4 separate regions of the Homo sapiens genome follow, and all the other regions are linked to region 4. Evidence: fine-mapped expression QTL. A gene starts in region 4. Each other region holds a variant in brackets. All regions are shown on one strand. Distances are from middle to middle.

Region 1 (5,144 bases), 74 kb after region 4:
CCCCTCCTGGGTGTGGTGTGGGGCCTGGGCAAGGACCTGGGTCTTTCCAAGCCTCAGTTTCCTCATCTGCGAAATGGGGACAAACACACCACTGCCAAGAAAACTGTTGGTCCTGACCAGGCCCCTTCAGGGCCACTGCCCCTCCCCGGCAGCTGGGAGTGCCCCCTGCAAGGGAAAGTTGCCCATGGTCAGTGCTGCCCTGGCTCGGAGTTGGGGCAGGGAGCAACTTCTTAGGAAGCACCTCCAATCGCATGAACAAGAATCCCCATCTCAGCTCTGCTTCTAGGGAACCCGGCCCAAGGCTGCCCACTTCACACAGGGCTGCCCGCAAGCTCCTGCCTGGGCACCTTACACAGCCACTCACTCGCCACTGCCACTCCGGGGCAGCTGGCATCTTACACATGAGGCCGGAGAGGCTCAGAGGGATCAGTGCCACTTTCTGCAGTGGACTCCCTCCCTCCCTCCCACCCCACTCCCTTTTCCCTCCCTCCCTCCGTCCTCAGGGCTGCAAAGGATCTCTTTGGTTCCTTCAAAGCCTCAGCGTTGCACTTGCAATGAATGTCCTGATGTTTTTTGGTTACCAGAGAAGAGTTGCAACTACAAAATCTCCGACGCATCTGTGTTCTCTTTTCCAGTGTCCATAGTAACTCCCAGTGTTACTCTGTCATCTGCTCAAGAGAGGGGTGATGGCTGGGCCCTCTCTGAGTCCTGCCAGCTGCCAGCCCTCCAGGGCAACGGCCGGGATGGTGCATGAGGCTGGGCTGGTCAGTGGCACTGCTGAGAAGAGGAAGGGGCCCCAAAGTAGGCGGCGGGAGGAGGAGGAGGAAGGCAGCCAAGGACACAGAAGAGACATTTGCTCGGACAGCGACGTTCTCCCTCTTCACAGGTGAGCATCTGTAAAGGAAGGGAAGGGTCTCACCCCAAACCCAACAGACCAAAGCCTTGGGATGTATCAGCAAACACGGGGTTGTGTTTGTGTGTCTGTGGGCTCATGGGAGGTGCAGAAGCCAGCACCTCACACTCATGGGGGATCTGCCGCCCAAGGCGCCGCAACCCCATGGCCACAGTCGGTCAGCCAGACCCCGGCCATGAAGGCTGAGGATGGGGTCCCTTCCATCCAGTCCCACGGACACTTCCGAATGTCTGCACCACTCAGAGGTGACTCTGAGCAGACATCAGGTTCAACTCCGCAGCCCAGCAGAGGGGACGAGGTGGCCAGGCCTGGCTGGGGGTCACTTGGGGAGGGGGCTTGGAGACTCCCATGGGCTCCCCAGGCCCAACCAATAACCCACACAACAGACACAACCCATGGCACCCAGACCCACCCTCAGGGCCCGGCAGGCCAACCTCCAGCCGCAGCCCCTGCTAATAACAAGGTCACGTCCTGAAAGTCCCTCCTCACCCTCCCACAGCCATACGAAATTGCCCAGGGGCTGCCTCAGGACCCCACACAGAAACCTGAGCTGTAAAACTTGCCAGATGTGAGGCCAGGTATAGTGTCTCATGCCTGTAATCCCAGCACTCTGGGAGGCCGAGGCAGGCAGATCACCTGAGGTCAGGAGTTCGAGACCAGTCTGGCCAACATGGTGAAACCCCATCTCTACTACAAATACAAAAATTAGCTGGGCATGGTGGTGGGCACCTGTAATCTCAGCTACTCGGGAGGCTGAGGCAGGAGAATCACTTGAACCTGGGAGCTGGAGGTTGCAGTGAGCCAAGATTGCACCGTCACGCTCCAGCCTGGGCAACAAAAGCGAAACTCCATTTCAAAACAAAACAAAACAAAACAAATCAAAGCAAAAACTGCCAGATGTGAGGCCACACCTAAGCTTCCCAGGGGGCCTGGGCTTTCTGGGCTCAAGGCTCTGCCTGCTGCCGGATCTGTCACTGGGGGACGGGGCAGGGGTGAAGGAGCGGGGGCCGGAACACGCTGTGTCTCCTCAAGTTTTTCCTGGACTCCTGTCTGTACATGGAGCGACAGCCCTGCCTCCAGGTGACCAGGGGCAGGACCCAGGATCCCAGCAAGCATGCTTGTTTGAACACTTTTTGGATGCAAGTAACAGAAATGAATTCTGGCTTCAGCCAGGAAAGAAGAAAACAGAAAGAAGGAGAAAGAGGAGAAAGGAAAGGAGGGGAAAGGGGAAAGAAAGGGGAGGGAGATGGCAGGATGGTCCCAGAACCCACAGGCAAGGATGCACGCTGAGCTCCGGAACGCCCAGAGCAGGCGCTGGGGGAGGATGGGAGTGCTTCCCGCACGCAGCCTTCCCTCCCGGGGTTTTCAGCCACATCCCTCTGGGTACAGTGTTACTCAGCAGAATAATTCACTGCCAGGCGATTCTGGGCTTCTAAACTATCAGCCAGCCCCTCAAATAGACTTGTCCTTCTTCGTTCACTTCCCCAATGTGGACACGCCCTGGCCTCGCCTGGTCGGGGGCCCCCATGGTGTGAGCACGTCCTCTGCTGTGCCCACATAGGCCAGGGCTGAGGTGGAGGGAAAGAGCCCCCTGTGCCTGCTCGGAGCCGGCCACACTTCTGCAGGGAACACAGCTCCATCCAGCTGTGGGGGCTGAGCTGGGAAGCCCTGAAAGGTGCCTGCTGGCCTCCAGGCCCAGGCCAGGTGGGAACCTGCTGTGGTCGCAGGCCTCCTTGTCCCTTCAGGCAGCAGCTGACTCCCTGTCCACAGCCAGCTGCGTTCCAGTGGGGAAGCTCCATCCCAGGCCTGTCTGATGACAATTCCACAATTCCACCCACGCTGCCTCCAGGAAGCTCTGCTGATGAGGTTCCCGTGGCCCTGCCTGTTGCAGGCGGCTGACCGAGGGCCAGCAGCCCAGCCAGCCCA[G/C]CTCACCAAGCAGCATTTCTCACTTGGAGCACGGCAGAGCTGGAGTTGTTTTTATATTTGTGCCAAGAAATGGCTCCAAGCACTGCAGACGTGGGCTCTGGCGGAGCCTCCAACAGGGCAGGCCACGCGGGGCCAGCAGCCTCCTTCCGCCCAGGGGCTGGCCCAGGAGGTGAGAATTCCACAGAGAAGTGCACACGTAGCACTTGGCCCGCTCCCCCTGGGGCAGAGCCATCACCTCCCAGCCCGAGAGGACCCCAGGCTGAGGGGGGAAGGGGCTGCCCAGGTCACACAGGGACCCTGGAATGCGGCAGAGCCCAGCACCAAAGGTTAAGTGAGGCCAAATCAGCAATGAGCATGGAGTGGTGCCCGGGCTGGAAGGACAGTCACTACCTCCCACCCCAGCAGGCGGCTGAGGGCTTCTTTGTTTTTGGTGGAGTCAGGATCTGGCTAAACAGACTGTTAAAGAAATGCGGAATTCCAGTCCATGCCGTTTTCTGGGTAACAGAGGGTTTAGGAGAAATCCCTTCTGCTCCACTTCTGTTGAAAATATTTCTGCACTCCAAGCGCCCTCAGCAGTGTCAGCAGGGCACAGCCCCTCAGCAGCTTGTGACACCCACGTGCCCTGGTCTCAAGGAGGTCCCCAGACATTGCACTGAGCACCAGGTCTCCTTGTGAATGTCCCCATGAGAGCAGGGAGTGCCCCTTCTCTAGCTGGTGTCCCATGTCCTCATCAGGAGCACATACTCAGGGCCACACAGCCCTCGTCCCCAACTATGGTGCTGTGATTTGCTGTGTGTATTCGTCCATTTTCACACTGCTGTGAAGAAATACCCAAGGCTGGATAATTTATAAAGCAAAGATGTTTACTTGACTCACAGTTCCACATGGTTGGGGAGTCCTCAGGAAACTTACAATCATGGTGGAAGGGGAAGCAGGCACATCTCACATGGTGGCAGGAGACAGAAGTGCAAGAAGGAGGAAGAGCCCCTTACAAAACCATCAAACCTCATGAGAACTCCCTCACTATCACCAGAACAGCATGGGGGAAACCGCCCCTGTGATCCAATCACCTCCCACCAGGTTCTTCCCTCAACACCTGCAGATTACAATTCAAGATGACATTTGGGTGGGGACACAGAGCCCAACCATATCAGTGGCCTTGAGCAAGTGTCTCAGCCTCTCTGTCTCTGCTTCCTCATCTGAATGAGAGGGTGACAGTGAGGACTCCCATCTCTTAGGGTTGCATGGGCATGAAACAGTGCAGCTAGTGCAGCGGAGGGCAGGCACATTTGCTGCTCCCCTTCCCCCACAGGGCGTGACTCATGCCCCCCACACCGGCTGCCTGTCCAGGGCCACGGAGGAACCCTGGGGATCTCCATCCACCCTACCACGTCTTGCAGACTAGGATGCCCGGGCTGCAGAGGTGCTGGGAGGTCAAGGTGGCAGAGCTGGGGCTGAGTGCTGGCCTCCCAGGGCAGGAGGCTCCTCCTGCACCCTTGAGCCTGGAGCACCCTCCCTGCATCTGGCCTCAGTGCACCTGACTTCCCACAGGCAGAGATGCCACCTCCTCAGGGGCTGCAGCCTCCTGTTCGCAGATGGAAGATGCAGCTCTGAGGGGTGAGGAGTCACAGCCGGAGCAGCACCCGGACAGAAGCCTGCTCCAGCCAGTTTCTGCCACCTCTGTCCTATCTCTCCTTTGAAAGGTGAGGGACAGGGACCTAGAGAGGCTGCCAGGGCCCTCAGTGTAGCACCGCCTCTTCCTGAGAGGTCACGCAGCCAGGAGAAAGGACAGATCAGCTGTTGTTGGTGGAGGGAGTGGGACATGGAGGGGGCATTCCTCTGCGGCTGGGGGCAGCATGCAGGGGAGGGTGGGTAGAGCAGAAGGTGAGTAATGACCAGAATCAGCAGGACCCAGACCAGGAGGCTGGGGGAAGTGGTAGATACAGCAACAGGTACCCTGCGGGGGCCTATTTAGAATCCAGAGAAGTGGCGTTCAGCCCCAGGGAGCTCAGGGACTGGGGTGGTGAGGCAGACGGGGCTGGCACTGGCAGGGCAGGGCTGCCACCATGGAGTGCAGTTTGCAGGTGCAGCCAGGGTGCCTGGGTTGTGACAGGGGCAAGAGCAAGGGTTTGGAGCAGACCCTTGAGACCCCAGGAAGAGCTCTGCCAAGCTTCAGTGCCCTCTTCCCCACAGGGAGGATGAAGGGAACTTCCTCCCGGGTGGAAGAGATGAGCTATTGAAGGTGGATACAGACTTGGCGCAGGTCCACACCCAAGGATTGGCAGGACCTGTGCACACTACAGAC
Region 2 (5,144 bases), 24 kb after region 4:
GATCCCAGGAAGTGAGCAGGTGCAAGGGAAATTTGCTGCCCCAAAACATGCAGGATGGTGACTGCCTCGCCCACAGCCCTGCTGCGGGAAGCTACAGCCTGGGAGAGACAGATTGCGGGTCTCTAATTTGGGTGATCCTGTGGTCGGTCGGCACCCCTTCCTGCTGAGGCTGAACCAGCATTTCCAGGGGCCCTGCCATCCACGCCACCAGAGATCTCCCTAAACTACATCAGTTTCTCTTTCCTCTCTTCCCACCCAAACTCACCTGTCCAGGATCTCGTCCCTGAGGCCTGGCTCTCTGCCGGTCAATGAGGGGCACAATGTACACCTTCACGGAGAGCTTCAAGGCCTGATCCATGGCATGAGGTGTGCAGCGTGCTCCCGACTTGGAGCCAGAAGACCCAGCTTTGGGCAGGCTCTGCAACCTGGGTGAGCCCTCACCCTCACTGAGCCTCAGTGTCCCTGTCTGCAAAATGGGGGAAGCAGCACATTCCCTCGGCACAGCCCGACTCTGGAACAACAAACGTATGCCAAGATGCCAAAGATTCTCACCCTCCCCTGCGGCTCGGTGCTGGCCAGGGAAATGGGGGCCGAGCTGTGGCCAGTGAGGGCTGGGCCTGGCTCCACACTCAGGATGATTGAATTCTGCATGGTGGCTCTGGCCGGGCTTCCCGGACAAGCCTGGGTGAGTCAGGAACAAGGCAGGCCTGGGTGGGGCTGGGGGAGGGCAAGAGTGTACAGCATGCCACCATGGCCATTCTAACAACACCTCCCCAGCATGGCACCCCGCCTCTCCACTGCCCCCAGATCCCAACTCCCACCCTGGAAACGTGGAACAATGGGAAACTTCACCCCCTTCCTTGGGGCACAACTGAGGCTAAGGTAGAGAAGGCGACCCGTGACTTCCTGGAAGGCCGGGAAGCAGAGAGCCCAGCTGACCCTCACTGCCCTTCCACGAGTCCCAGCACTGTCCCTGGCCCATTCTTCATCACTGCCGCCTCTCAGTGGGAAAGCCAGCCAAATTCTGTGCCAAGCCAGGAAGCCAGTCCTGGGGACAGGGTGGGCGAGCTAACAGGTAGGTGGCACCAAACATGCCCTGCCTAATCAGTGCCCCCCCACCGCCCCCCAAGCACACCTGAACCAGCTCCCAGGGTCCTCAGGCAGGTGCTGGGTCACAGCAATGATCAAGGAGGGGTGGCCTCTGGGGTGGACAGACAGACAGACCCGGGCACAGGGAGGTGAGGGATCAGGAGGGGCAGATGGGAGGCCCCCAGCCCAACCTTGAGCACTGGGGTGAGCTCTCAATGGTTGGGGCCTGTGCCGAGAGCTGTGGGCCAGGGTGGGAGCTGGGAGCAGGCTGGAGGAGTGACCGTGGCAGAGGGAGCGGCAGGGGTGCCAAACACTGCTGTGGTGGGCTGGGGGCAGCTCGAAGCCTCTTGTTGGAGCTGGATTCCCAAAGCAGCGGGTCAGCGGGGGCAGATGCTTTAAAGGGTCCTGTGCTGAGCGGAGGGTGTGTGGGAGGGGCACAGGTGTCCCAGAGCTGGGGAAGGGCTGCCCCACTTGTCCCGAGGAGAGGACGCCAAGGGCCCGAGCCCGGATGTGGCAGGGAAGGAGGCTCACAGCACCCACTTCACAGATGAGAAAACTGAGGCTGCCAATGGCCCCCGCCCATTTTGGCTGCCTTGTGATCATGTTGGCTCTGGGGTAAGTAACCTCTCTTTCCACATGCCATGAAGGGTTGGCACTCTGAGTACCTTCTTCTTTTCACTAAAAATTCCCTCCCAGAACCCACTTTCCGCTTGTTCACAGGACCCGCTGGCGGGGCCTCCCACCACAGTGAGGAGCCACGAGGGTCCCCTAGTTGGATGCTCAGGTCACACTGCCCTCGGACTTTCTGCACAAAATGCTCAGGCCCCTCCTCACCTCCAGGCCTCGGGACCAGTCACACAAGAAGTACTCTCCGGGTTTGTTTGTTTGTTTTTATAAGAGGAAAAAAATGCCCAACAGAAAACTGACAAAGTAAATGAACAGGAAATTCACCAAAAACAAAAAAACGTAAATACTGTATACAGATGGACCATAGCAAAACTGTGTGAAAGGTGGTCCCGGACAGGCGGGGTGGCTCACGTCTATAATCCCAGCACTTTGGGAGGCCAAGGCGGGTGGATCACATGAGGTCAGGAGTTTGAGACCAGCCTGACTACCATGGTGAAACCCCTTCTCTACTAAAAATACAGAATTAGCCGGGCATGGTGGCGCATGCCTGTAATACCAGCTCCTCGGGAGGCTGAGGCAGGAGAATAGCTTGAACCCAGGAGGCAGAGGTTGCAGTGAGATGAGATTGCGCCACTGCATTCCAGCCTGGTGACAAAAGTAAAACTATCTCAAAAAAAAAAAAAAAAGTGGTCTCAATGTCCTAGTCCTTAAAGATAGGGAAAGAAGAGACAGAGCTCTTCACCATGAGGTTGGTAAAATTGCCTCCCGATGGTGATGGGGAAAATGGACACAGGTTTTTCGCTTGCCCTGCTGGCAGGGAGGGGCAGTCTGGGCATTGATACTAAAAACAGGCTTATCCTTATGCACAATTTTAAATCCATTCCGCAATCATTTACTGAGTGCCTGTAAAGTCTGACAGCTGTTTGTCCAGGAATTTAACACCGAGGAGCCTAGCATAGGAGTCCAATGCTTTGGATGCATAGAGGACGGC[G/A]GTGTTTATATAACACACACCTGGAGAGTGGATTCCCTGCCAAGGAAACACCAGGAGCTGTGAGATCCGCGAGCCAGTTCCACATTCATGGGCACAGGAATCTGCCTAGGCTTATGGAGTTGATTTAAAAAATAACACAGGAGATCATACATGGCACATCATATGATCTCACTATGTGTCCACATCTGAGTGTGCACGGGAGGGCTTGGGGTGTGGAGGGGTGTGTGTGTGGAAGGGGGTAACCTTCATGTGCCCAGAGAAGACCTTGAAATCATGTTCATCAAAAGACCAGCGTCCATCTCTCTGGTCACGGGCCTCCATCGATCTCTTTTTCCTCTAATTTTCTGTATATTTCTTTTTACTTCTTTGATATCCCTTCTTTATGATATCCCTAATGCCTTGCTTCCTAATGACATCCCTATGCCATGTTTTAAAATAAAAATGCTATTTTCAAAACAATTTTCTGTATAGTTACCCCCAGAGAACTCGTGGAAAAATACACATCAGCCCTCTTAGGTATTTTCAGTCTTGAAGAACAGCTTGAAATGGTTTCCTCTGCAGGCTGGTGACAGGGCTGGAGTGCCCATGGCAGGCCCCGCCAGCCTCCCCTTGCCAAGAGACACTGGATACGAGGGAGGCAGTCACAGGTGGCCACTCCCAGCAGCTTCCGTCCTGGGTGCAGGCCTGCCCCGGGGGAACCCAGGGCCTCCAAGCACCAGAGCAATCCTTAGGAATTACAGGTGGCCCTTGAATAATGTGGGGTTAGGGGCACCAAACTCCTGGGCAGCCAAAAATCTGTGTATGACTTTTGACTCCCCCAAAACTTTGTGTGTGTCTGTGGTTTTTTTTTTGTTGTTGTTGTTGTTTGTTTTTGTTTTTGTTTTGAGACAGAGTCTTACTTTGTTGCCCAGGTTGGAGTGCAGTGGCCCAATCTCGGCTCACTGCAACCTCAGCCTCCCAGGTTCAAGTGATTCTCCTCCCTCAGCCTCCCAAGTAGCTGGGAGTACTGGTGTGCACCACCACGCCCAGCTAATTTTTGTATTTTTAGTAGAGACGGGGTTTTGCCATGTTAGTCAGGCTGGTCTTGAACTCCTGACCTTAGGTGATCTGTCTGCCTTTGCCTCCCAAAGTGCTGGGATTACAGGTGTGAGCCACCATGCTCGACTGACACCCCCAAAACTTAACTAAGAGCCTACTGCAGGCCAGAAGCCTTACCAATAACATCAACAGTCCCTGAACACAAATATTTACTGTATTCTAACAATGAAGGAAGAATCTGACCATCTAGCTTTAGCGAAAACATTAAGAAAATCATAAGGAAGAAGAGATGTATTCACTGTGGAATCGGGCCATCATGAAGGTCTTCGTCCTCATTATCGTCACCATGAGCAGGCTGAGGAGGAAGAGGAAGAGGGCTGATCTTGCCGGCTCAGGGGTGGCAGAAGTGGGTGAAAATCCATGTATAAGTGGACCCACGCTGTTCAAATCCATGTTGTTCAAGGGTCAACTGTAGTTAAAAATCCATTCATTCAACACACACCGTGGAGGCAGAGCCTGTGCTGGAGTGAGGCTGGCCCAGGAATCGGCAGCACCCTGGGGGTCGCTGGGGTCGGGGAAGGCTCCTCCAAGCCTGGTCGAACACAGCCTCGCAGGATGCGTGGGGCTTTATGGATGCGCACAAGGAGCAGGGGAAGGCCTCGCACAAAAGCAGATAGCACCAGAGAGCAAGGGATGCCGGGGCACCACGGAGGACGTGGAAGGCCAGAGGAGGGAGTCACAGGTACCCCTTTTACTTAGGTGTTAGTTTCCTATGCAGTGTAAGGAATGATCAACCTCACCCACCCCACATCCACATATTCATTTCTGCAGGGCAAAATCCGGGCAGGGCTCAGCTAGGTCCTCTGCTCAGCATCTCACGAGGCTGCAGTGATGGTGTCCGCTGGGTTGTGATCTTATCTGAAACGCAGGGGCCTCCTCCAAGCTCTCAGGTTTGGTGGAATTTGGTTTCCCAGGGTTGTTGGCAGGGCTTGTTCTCGGCAGCTAGAATTCCTGCCCAGGTCCCTGCCAGGTGGAGCCCCATTTTCAGAGCAGCAAGAACGGTCTCTCCTGTAAAATCCCTCCCTCCTGGAGGAGCCCCGTCGGTTTGAAGGCTCCGATGACTAGCCAGGCCCACCCAGGATAATCCCCCGTTCTTAAGGTCCACAGTACCAGGAGATAACCTAATCACAGCTGCCAAATCCCAGCAGATTCACAGCAGGCCCACATCCCCCAAGGGGATTATATTGGGCGGTACACTAGGGGCGTGATCTTGGGGCCATCTCGGAATTCCTCCCGCCACAGTCATGGCTCACTCTTGCAGCCCTCGCTCCCTGCCAGGTGGCGTCCTGCGCATTGCCCTCCTAATGGTACTTTGAGCACTTGCCCAGGCTTTTAGTCC
Region 3 (5,144 bases), 23 kb before region 4:
GCCGTCAGGGTTCATGGAGGGCAGCAGGTGGATGCGGGTGGTGTTGAGCAGGCGCTGGATGCGGGGGTTACCAAGCAGGTACTCAGAGCACAGGTACTGGGCTAGGTAGATGAGCATCTCCCGGCCCGCCACCTCGTTGCCATGAATGTTGCCGATGAGCTTCACCTCGGGCTCCACTGGGGGCAAATACAGAGACTTGGGGCATCATCTCAAAGCCGGGGGTCCCCAAAGGCATGAGGCCCCCCCACTCAGCAAGAATGACCAGATGGGCTGGGACCAATTCATACTTGTTTTGACTCAAGAACCTCTGTATATAATGAGGTCTCATCAAGGTCATCACTTTTGTTAAGCTCGTTTTTTATGCCTAGCCAGAATTCTTAGTTAGCATAACTCAAGAATATGAATAATATATGTTATCATTGATTCATGCAAATTTAACTGATGGTCTCTCTTCATGTTTGTGTAATAAGTCAAAGTGCACATTGGTACTTAGCTGGGAAGGTGGTTGGCCCTTGAGTGGATGAATGGATATATCAATGATGGATGGATGGATGGATGGATGGATGAATAATGGCTGGCTGGATGGCTGGATGGATAGATATATCAATGATGGATGAATGGATAGATGGATAAATCAATGATGGATGGATGAGTGAATAATGGCTGGATGAAATAATGGATAAATTGATGCATGAATGGATGGACGGATGATGGATGGGTGTGTAAATAAATGGATGGATGATGAGTGGATGGATGCATGGATGTATGAATGAATGGGTGGATGATGGATGGATGTGTAATGGCTGAATGAATAAATGGATGGATGGATGGATGGATGGATGAATAAATGAATGGACTATAGGAAGAAGAGTGGACCAGGCCCCATGGCCTTACTGGCTGTGTGACTGCAGGCAAGTCACTCCTCCTCTCTAAGCCTCGCACTTGCTCCCCTGGAAAATGATGTCTCCCTCCCCAGCTGTGTGTGGCCCAGGGACAGCCAGGGATGAGAGGAAACACCCGTGTTCCTCAGATGCCACATCCCGGGGTATAAATGACCTGGGAGCTTTCTGCGCTGGTTACCTCCCTTGGCCTTCTGCACAGGGGCACCTCTTGCCCTCAAATTCCAGTGCTGTAGGGAGAGCCTCTGCCTCCTGCCCAGAGCATGTTACAGTTGGAGAGGGAACATAGTGAGCCTTGGGGGCCAGGGTGTGGCCAGGTGGCCTCTGGCCCCTGGTAAGAGATAGAGCCTTTGGGCTCATGGTGTTCATGCTGCCCAGACCAGTAGGATGAAGACTGGCTGAGGCTGCCAGCACTGAAAAGGCCCTGAGTCCATAAACAAAGAGCAGGTGCATTTTTCAGTAACTGGTGATGACCAAGGGTCAAATGGAGGCTGCTTCTAAAATAACCGATTCTGTTTGAGTGGGGAGGCCGAGCTGGGCGGATCACTTGAGGTCAGGAGTTCGAGACTAGCCTGGCCAACATGGTGAAACCCCTGTCTCTACTAAAAATACAAAAATTGGCCTGGTGTGGTGGCCCATGCCTGGAGTCCCGGCTACTCGGGAGGCTGAGGCAGGAGAATTGCTTGAACCCAGGAGGCAGAGGTTGCAGTGAGCCGAGATCGTGCCACTGCACTCCAGCCTGGGCAACAAGAGCAAAACTCTGTCTCAAAAAAATAAAATAAAATTTCTTGTTTGTTTTATATCTTTTCAGCCACTAGATCAATGTCTCCATTATTATGAAATAACCTAGTCTGCCACCCTACATTTTGAAGTAAGATGGATATCTGGAGAAATTCTTCTTTATACATATAGTGGTTGCACATGCCCAGCGGGACGTGGCCTGCACCAAGCAGCTCCCTGAGGCCCCCAGCTCTGCCCAGGACCCCAAACACCCCACCAACTTGTGCACCCGAAGGTGGAGCGGCCCAAGCCCTTTCCCGAAACGGGGCCAGGCCAGGCTCTCCCAAGGGCACTCACTCAGCTCGTGCTGGCCGGGGCGGCTGGAGAACTCGATGACCAGCAGCTCCCTGCCGTCGAAGCTGCGCCCGATGCTGTAGGTCCTGGCCACGTGGGCGCAGCGGGAGGCCGTCCGCCTCAGCACACGCACCATCTGGGCGTAGGAGTGGTGGCTGAAGCGGATGAAGGTGGGCGGCAGCCCTGAGGGCAGTGCCTCGTCAGCCTCCAGGCCTCCTGGGGGAGCAGTGGGGGGGCTCAGTCAGTGTCAGGCCCCCAGGCTTCCTACCACTGCCTGGGAACGCTGACCACACACAGCACCCTTAGTCCCCTCTGCACGACAGCCATGCTTGGACATCTCTATCTTTAATTAGAGTTCCCTCTGCAGTGCCTACAACGATATCTAAGCCAAACGGCACCTGAGGTATGTACACAGCACAGCGCCATGGTTCCTAA[C/G]GTGACTGTGAGTAAACATACTATGGGGCCACTGTGGGAAGCTCCTAAAATACGGAGCAGGACAACAGAAAGGAAGACAGATATATGGGGTCCTGGACCCCCCAAGGCAAACCCCTGCTGGGTGTGCAGAGGGGATTTTCCTGGGCGTGTTTTCCATGACAGTGGCACTCAGGCAGTTCAGTATTCTGCTTCATTTGCTTGGCTAATGGTGGAAACAGGAAGGCTCCTTGTGGTGCCCCCTCCGGCTGCTGTGAGGCTTCCCAGTGTTTCTGTTACAACCTCATCGGTACAACAGTGAGTGCCTGTCCAGGAAGGAAACAGAAAGGGGGGCTCTGGGAAGTACTTGGGGGAGGAAGAAAAAAGGGGGCTGGGGAAGAGGGAGGGGTTCTGGAACTAGAATACGAACGTCTCTACACCACATACGCACCAGCTTCCCCACCATCCTGTCATCCACTAGAACAGAGGTGCCCTGAGGGCCACCCCGATGACGCTTAGCTCCCTCCACCCCGCCAGGGGCTTTGCAGCAGTCAGGCCCACAGGAGCAGGACGCAGGTGCCCGCAGGCTGTTCCTGGGTCCACAGAGAGTTAATGTGCTCCTCTAAGCTTCTCCTTGCCCTGTGGTTTTGCTTCTGCTCAAAACGGTTCTCCAGGGGAAAGACTAGCAGAGGAAGCCGGCAATTTGGTGGTAGAGATGCCCAAAATAATCTCCAACCGACTCCTTGGGCTTTCCCAGGGCTGTGGGCTTGGCTTCCTTCCTCGCCTCCCTGGCCTCCCACAGGCAGCTCCACCACCTCTACAGGGACTGAGCTCTGCAGACAGACGGCTCCCACCTGCTGGCAAAGGGCACCCCCCCTACCGCTGCATCGCATGGGAGCCCAGGGTCCACCCTTCTCAGATTGGGAGCCAGAGGCTGCAAGACATGCCAGGTTCAGCCCTGAGCACCTGACATAGCCCGGAACCCAGGGCTTGCTGGAGCCCGGCCCGGGTGTTTGTCTGCCTTCCTTCTCCTGCCCTCCTCAATGTCCCAGCACAAAGCCACATGTACAGTGGGTGCTCGGTAGCTGTTTGACAAATGGCCAAATCCATCCCTCCATCCGCAATGGGCTTGGGCCACTCCAGCTAAAGACCCCACTGCTGTCACCCTTCCCGAGGCTCCACTTCCTCTTCCATGGAGCAAGGCTGTCGTGAGACTCGCGTGAGCTAGCACATGTGTGGCACCCGCAGTCAGATCCTCTGAACCCAACCATGAGCGGACACTGCCCTGCACAGTTGAATGTGGCACACACTGGCCCTAGGCTCTTCAAAGACAGGTTCAGACTCATTCAAATGCGATGAAACGCCCACATCCAGGCCTCAGTGGCAAGAGCCACATCCCAAGCCTTGGGGGCCACATGCGGCCAGTGGTAACTGTCTTGGACAGAACACAATAGAACATTTCTTTTACACAGAAAGGTCTAACGGGCCAGGACTGCTGCGGATCATGCAGGGTCTCTGGTGGACACCGACTCGTGAGACAACAGACACAGGGGACTCCATGCAGGGCCCCCAACCAGCCCCGCTGCCAAGTGGCCCTCTGGCACCTCTTTGCACACCTCAGAGACAAGTGGCCCATGGTGGCCCAGTCTTGCCCACTCCCCCTCCACTGTTTCATCTGCAAGAGACATCAAAGCATTTCTCCACAGCTCCTCTCCCTCCTTGAGCCCACAGGGCGGTGCAGACCCTGCTTGGAGGAGTCACTCCAAGCCAAACCCTCTGTGTGATCTTCCAGGCCCAGCGATGAGCAATCGTGAAGCTTTGCCCGCCAGACCTCCCGGGGGATGTAAATGCCCCGCCCCCCCTTGACCAGGGGTAAGCACTATGGTTCTGGAGGGTCTGTGGCTGAGGACTGGACCCCCAGGGCCAGCCCTGCACTCTGAGCCCAGGCTCCCCCACACGAGGCCTGCTCACTGCACCCTGGGCGGGGGCACTGCCCCCACTTGGACTCAGCACCCTTCCACCCCAGCCTGCCTCTAAGGGGCTGGAGACTTCTGCTAGGGGGCCCTGGGCAGCGAGAGGATCCTCCATCTGCACTGAGCCCCCGACCCTGCCTGGCACCCTTTTGTGGGGAACATGCTGCCTCGGGGAGCAGCCCCGCCCTCTACCAATGCCTGCACCGTCACTGTCGATGGAAAAGCCCTCAAGTTCCTTCCAGTGTGGCTCTTGGTCCTCCTTGACCACCTGGACCCCATGACCACACAGGCCCCCGCCACTTTCCCTTACCCCGAAGCTTCTCCAGCGGGTCATAGCAGCCCTCGTCCTCTCTCGTGAAGTAGCGGTGGCAGTCAAGGAAGTAGGGCCAGGCCATGTCAATGGCGTCGAAGGCGGGCTGGCAGACCTCCCGCAGGCCCTCGCAGATGTGCCGGCAGGGTCTGCGCACCCAGCCGCCCTCACACCGGGGGGCCAGCACAGCACAGCCCAGCAGCCGCAGGTCCGGGTTGCACTGGCCTTCCAGGAGCTGGTGTAGAACGCTCAGCAGGATGTACTCGGAGCTGGCCTCCACCACCTCCCACGACCGGTGCTGAAGCAGGTTGGGGAAGGTGGTGTGGTTGTAGGCGGCATCGCTGCAGGTCCTGAGCTGCAGGTCCACGCAGGTGGCTGGGGAGGCAGGGTCGGCAGGTCAGTCCCTCCTGCAGTGGCCCTGACCGTCACGCATCAGACATTTACGTAGGGGACCCCACGCAGGGCCAGGGCCTGCAG
Region 4 (5,121 bases):
AAGCAGTCACCATCTCTAATAAACAACCTGCCTCCCTCTAACCACGGTGCCTTCCAGCAAGGCAGGGTGCACACATTTCCTTGAGTGGAGCTAAGGTAGTAACCAAGTGGCCGAGTGGGTGACCCAGGAACCCCGGAGGCAAAAACTACAGACTCCCCTGCCCCTCAGCACAGCACTGTGATGATGGTACCAGCAGGCCCTTTACACACACTCTTTCCCAAATTACCTGTGACTCCAGGTAATTCTGACCTGACAAGCACTCAGGCCAAGGTCTCCAGGAAAGAGAGAAGCAAAGAGAACACTCACCTGGCAGTGTTACTGCCCCGAGGCTCCAGCTGGAGCTTCCACCCAGATTCCCAACTCCACGCCCAGGAGATGCGGAGTCTGAGGCCTGAGTTAGTCCCAGGTTGCCTGATTTTGAAAGCTTTCTAGGTTTAAAGAGCCAGGTGCTGATTCACAGACCCCATATCTGCCTGTGCCTGGACAAGGAGAGTCTCCTCATTTATAGGACAGGATGGGAGCCAGTGCCACCTCCCTCCCAGGATCTTTCCCAGGAGCTGAAGCACAGCCCTGAGCCCGTCAGGTGTGGAGGAGGGTCCTCTGGTGGTGGCCGCCCTCCAGATATCTTGCTGGGAAACCTCAGAGGCCTACTCAACTGAGGCCAAGCCCACCCAGCTGTTCCCACAACAGGAGCCGGACTGCCAGGACCCACCTGGTCATGACATACGGGGCAAAGCAGATGAGGAAGGTCGCAATAGCAATGCCAATCTTCCTGGTGGCGCGGTGGCGGCGCCGCTTCTGCTGGATGAGGCAGCGCTGCCGCACACTGTGGGGACAGAGGACAGTGGTCAGGATGATGGCAGGGTGGGGACAGAACCCAGGCCCAGAGCCCAGGGGCTGAAGTGAGGGCAGACAGGAGGGTTTCAGGAGGATGTTTAGCCTGGAACCTGAGGAGGACAGAGGGATGGGGGAGAGAGAAAGAACAAGGGGTAGGCTTGCTTTTTTGTAGGTGAAATAAAGGAAGTCTGGAAAGAAGGGCCAGCTCCTCCTCCCTTCCCTCTGGCTCATCCTTCTCCACACAGAGGCAACTGAGGCAGGCTGCTGATGGAGGGGCAAGGCTGGGGCCCTCAAGGAGGGAGAAGTCACGTGGCCTGCCCACCCCAGGAGCAGGAGAGCCTCTTGGGTGTTCTGTGGGGGGCCAAGGGGGAAAGGGGAACACCTACAGGAGGTAATTTGGAACAATGGCGACACCAGCTAGAGATTCAGGAGACAAATCCTGCCAAGTAGTGAGCAGAAAGCATGGGGGATGGACCCTGCTCAAGACTTGAAGCCCAAGTCCATGCAAGGGCACTGGGTCAGCAGTGGGCAGAAACAAGCAGATGCCTCAGACCCACAGCCATGCACAGGAGGGGTGTGTCTGGCCGCCCACAGCAGAGCCCGCGGAACCCCTCCCGGAGAAGCACACCCCACAGCTCTGCGCAAAGCTCCCTGTGCACTGAGCACATATCCCAGGAGGCAGAGGCCCCCGCAGTGTCTGCACCAATGAACCAACAGGAAACCCCTGTGAGCAGCGTGCAGGGGCAGTGCTGTGGCTGGTGAACTCTGGGCGGAGTAACGGTGGTGATGCCCACAGGCTCCTCAAGCCAACTGCCCAGGGAGCGCCCAAGTCCCTGGCCTGGGCCTGTCGGCATGCACTGGGCCAATACCTGGGGTGCAGGTCGGCGAGCAGCGCGAGCGCCTTCATGGTGACGGTGTCCATGCGCTGGCAGTGTCTGCGTGCCACCCGGTGCACCTGGAGCGAGGTGAGGCAGAGCACCGCCAGCGGCAGCACGAAGCCCACGGCATGGAGCGTGGCGGTGAAGGCTGCGAAGCGCGGACGCTCAGGCTCGGGCGGCAGGCGCAGCGAACAGGACGCGAAGGCGCTGCTGTAGCCAAGCCACGAGCAGCCAAGTGCAGCGCCTGAGAAGGCCAGCGACTGTCCCCAGGCACAGCCCAGCAGCAGGCCGGCATAGCGCGGTCGCAGGCGTCCGGCGTAGCGCAGTGGGAAGCCCACTGCCAGCCACTGGTCTGCGCTCAGCGCCGCCACGCTCAGCGCCGCGTTGGACGCCAGGAAGGTGTCCAGGAAGCCAATGACTTGGCATGCGCCGGGCGCCGACGGTGTCCGCCCGCGCATCACACCGAGCAGCGTGAAGGGCATGTCCAGCGCCGCCAGCAGCAGGTGGCCCAGAGACAGATTCACCAGGAGGACGCCTGAGGCTCGAGTGCGGAGCTCAGCGCTGTAGGCGCAACAAAGCAGCACCAGTGCGTTGGATAGCAGCGCCACGGCCAGTACCATCACCAGGAGACCCGCCAGCAGCGCCTCGCCGGGGCCCATGGCGCTAGCGGCTCGCCAGGCACCCTGGGGTTCTCATGGCTCTGCTTCGGGCGCGAGCCTGGGAAAGTGAGGCGATGGAGCAGCTGAGCGGCGCGCCCACGGCTTCTGGGAGGTGCAGAGCCGGCTAGCAAGGTCCAGAGCAGCGCGAGGAAAGCGGCGGCAAGTGCAGGGTCCGGGGCACCCGGGGGGAGGGCGTAGCTCTGCGGAGCAGGAGCAGCCCGGGGCCGCCCTGGAGGCAGCGCAACCGCGGTGCTGTCCAGGGTGCTGAATGCGCTCACCGTCCCGGCAGGACTGTCCTGAGGCTGAAGCGAGGCGCAGGGGCGCGGGGCGTAGGGGCGAGGGAGGTCTCTTTCCTAACACTGTATCTTTCCTTCTTCTCTCCTCGTGGCGTGGCAGGATGGGACTCTGCGCGCTTCTGTTCCGGGCCAGGTCAGTCCCTGCCCTGGTCACACCTCCAGCCGAGCCTCCCAGCCCTGGTTCGCGCGCAGCTGACACGCCAGCAAGAGCCACTCAGTGGATCCTAGGCAGCACAGCCCTCGCCACGCCTCTCCCTCCAGGCGCTGGCACCAAACTGGAGCGACCTGGTGGCTTATAGGGGCGGTAGGGGCGGGAATGAATTGGCAAGAAGCTGTGCAGGCGGGGCAGAGGGAGTGACGGGGCGGGGAAGGGGGCGGGGGCTGCCCTCAGGACTTCCTCCCATCCCCCAGCCTCAGCCCAGGAACTGTGACTGCATCGACGTTTGTTGAAGCAAGAAGAGCGACAAGAAGTGGAAACAAGGTTGAGAAAGGCATGGGGGAAGGAAAGAGAAGAAGAAGAAAAAGTGAAGAAAAAGTGAAGAGGAAGTGGGGGGAAGAAGAGGGAAGAGGAGAGAAAAGCAACAGAGGGAGAGACAAAGAAGGGGGCACCTTGGGAGGACCCACCCAGAACTGGGTGCCATACAGAAATGCCTGTCCTTCACCTGGCTCCTGGAGCCCCGCGGTGCGAGGCCTCTCCCACCTCCGCCATCCTCTGTGGTGGCTTCTGAGCCTTCTCACCCAGTGGGAATCTTCTAATCCATTCGTGGCCACTTGGCAGGACAAGGATATGGTGAAGCCTCCTGGAAGCTGCTTCTTCCAGGAAGCTTTTTGGCATTTTCTCCCCAGTGACAGCCACAACATGACAGAAATGAAGGGCAGACGATTGCCCACCCCTCCCCACACCCACCCTCACCTGCAGGCTCTGCCAGCCCTTTCTGAGGGACAAAGGGTGGCTGGTGGTGTGGAGGCTCACCCTGTGGGCCTCTCTCGTGCCGGTGCTGCAAAGTGGCCAAGGGAAAAGCCACAGGTGCACAACTGGCATGCTGGGGCACCCCTGGTTCTGTGCCTTGGGCCTCACATTCTCATCTGTCACATGGGGATATTCATAGCCCCACTTAAACCCCTTGGGCCTCACATTCTCATCTGTCACATGGGGATATTAATAGCCAGCAATAGCATCTGCCTCTGGTGGTTGCTGTTAGGGTTAAATTGGCCAACATGCACAAAATGCTGAGGACATCCCAGCAGGCAGTGAAGGATCAGAACACAGTCAACCTTTATTAGGGGGTCCGTCTTATACCTGGGCAAAGGAAGTTTCATTCAAGTGTCTCTGCCAAGTCCCCATAACTACAAACCAGGAATGCCGAGATTCATACCTCAGTCCTTCTGGCTCTAAGTCCAATGTCCTTGTCATCCAGAGAGGCCATCACACCAGCTCCAAGCCATTGCCATCCATCAAATACAGAGGCTTTCTCTCTCCCCATTTCTCCCTGGCACTCCCACAAACCTGCTTTCAAATTTTCACCAAATTAGACCTTCCCTGAAGCTAGAGCAGCCACGTCAAAGTTTTCCTGACATGTCCAGGAAGAGTGGGCCACTCTGCAGCTTCTGCAGATCAAGCAAGTTTGCAGGTGAATAGCTGGGACAAAGTGATTGTGATAGTGGGGGCTTGAGAGCAGGGGCCTCCCCCAACCCCTCCAAGGCTTCTGAGCGACCATGTGCAGCTCTGGGGAGCGGTGGAGTCATCACGTGGCTTCACAGGGAGACTTTGGTCTAGCCACTCACAGCAGCCTCTGTCACCTCTCAACTACTCCAAAGGGAGACAATTCCACTTGCAGGGGAGCAGAGAGCATCTCTTCTGAGACATGAGCATGGGGAAGCTCCACCAGCCTGTATTATGAAAGGCAGGCCATTTGCTCATCTGCAAGGATGTACTGGACAACTGCATGAATGAGAAAATGTGTGTGGTGAGATCTCTGGACTCTGGTGAGGGCACCTTGATAGGTCTAGATCTGTTCTGTTTGCTGCTCTCCCCAAAGCCCCAGTGCTTCTGGCCTCAGATCTTGCCAGCCTGGCTGCCCCCCTTCCCTGGGTTGTAGGGGGTGGTTTTGAACCCTGTGGTCTTATCAGTATAATATCGTTTCATCTTCTTACACTCAAATCTCATTCCTGATGAAAAATTTAAATCCTCTGTAGGGTGAAATGCTGGACCTAATCCTTTTATCTTCCAAAAAGAAAAAGTATATGAAAATATTAAATATTTTCACCACTTCTTTAAAAAGTAAGGCAGTACTCCTAACTATGCAATCCTGCCCATTCTTGCTGAGATACGCATTGCAATGATAAAGTTCAGGATTAGTTCCCGAAGGCTCCTCCCCTGCCTAGTGATAGTTCATGGTTCCCCATTGCCTATGAAATTCCTTAGCAGCCCCTCCAAGTCTACCTACATCT

Alleles and levels. Positions count from the first base shown, and alleles are read on the strand shown. Sizes are in standard deviations (SD) of each study's normalised expression. Not every link is listed here.
As copies of G replace A in region 2, the expression in esophagus mucosa of the gene that starts at base 2,965 in region 4 goes up (small effect, 0.27 SD a copy in GTEx).

Evidence for each region. PIP is the estimated chance that this variant, and not a neighbour inherited with it, causes the effect.
Region 1: its variant is the best candidate, but not a certain one, in a credible set for the expression of GPR78 in lung (TOPMed, PIP 0.66).
Region 2: its variant is the best candidate, but not a certain one, in a credible set for the expression of GPR78 in esophagus mucosa (GTEx, PIP 0.68).
Region 3: its variant is the best candidate, but not a certain one, in a credible set for the expression of GPR78 in nasal epithelium (TOPMed, PIP 0.67).

What each region holds. Positions count from the first base shown.
Region 1 is chr4:8,504,548-8,509,691 of GRCh38, reverse strand. It overlaps a transcript of TRMT44 not described here. Among named protein-coding and RNA genes, the nearest start is that of TRMT44, 66 kb to the right of the region's middle. RefSeq lists an enhancer at 4,623-5,144. The variant G/C (reference allele first, on the strand shown) is at 2,840.
Region 2 is chr4:8,554,103-8,559,246 of GRCh38, reverse strand. No RefSeq gene overlaps it. Among named protein-coding and RNA genes, the nearest start is that of GPR78, 24 kb to the left of the region's middle. The variant G/A (reference allele first, on the strand shown) is at 2,708.
Region 3 is chr4:8,601,021-8,606,164 of GRCh38, reverse strand. It overlaps CPZ (carboxypeptidase Z), which reads right to left. Exons shown (of 11, transcript NM_001014447.3): 3 at 4,668-5,042; 4 at 1,977-2,189; 5 at 1-176. It overlaps LOC124900659 (a long non-coding RNA gene), which reads left to right. Exons shown (of 3, transcript XR_007058014.1): 3 at 1-438. Among named protein-coding and RNA genes, the nearest start is that of CPZ, 11 kb to the right of the region's middle. The variant C/G (reference allele first, on the strand shown) is at 2,409.
Region 4 is chr4:8,578,236-8,583,356 of GRCh38, reverse strand. It overlaps GPR78 (G protein-coupled receptor 78), which reads right to left and starts at 2,965. Exons shown (of 3, transcript NM_080819.5): 1 at 1,707-2,965; 2 at 713-826. The coding sequence starts at 2,374. RefSeq lists an enhancer at 2,144-2,805.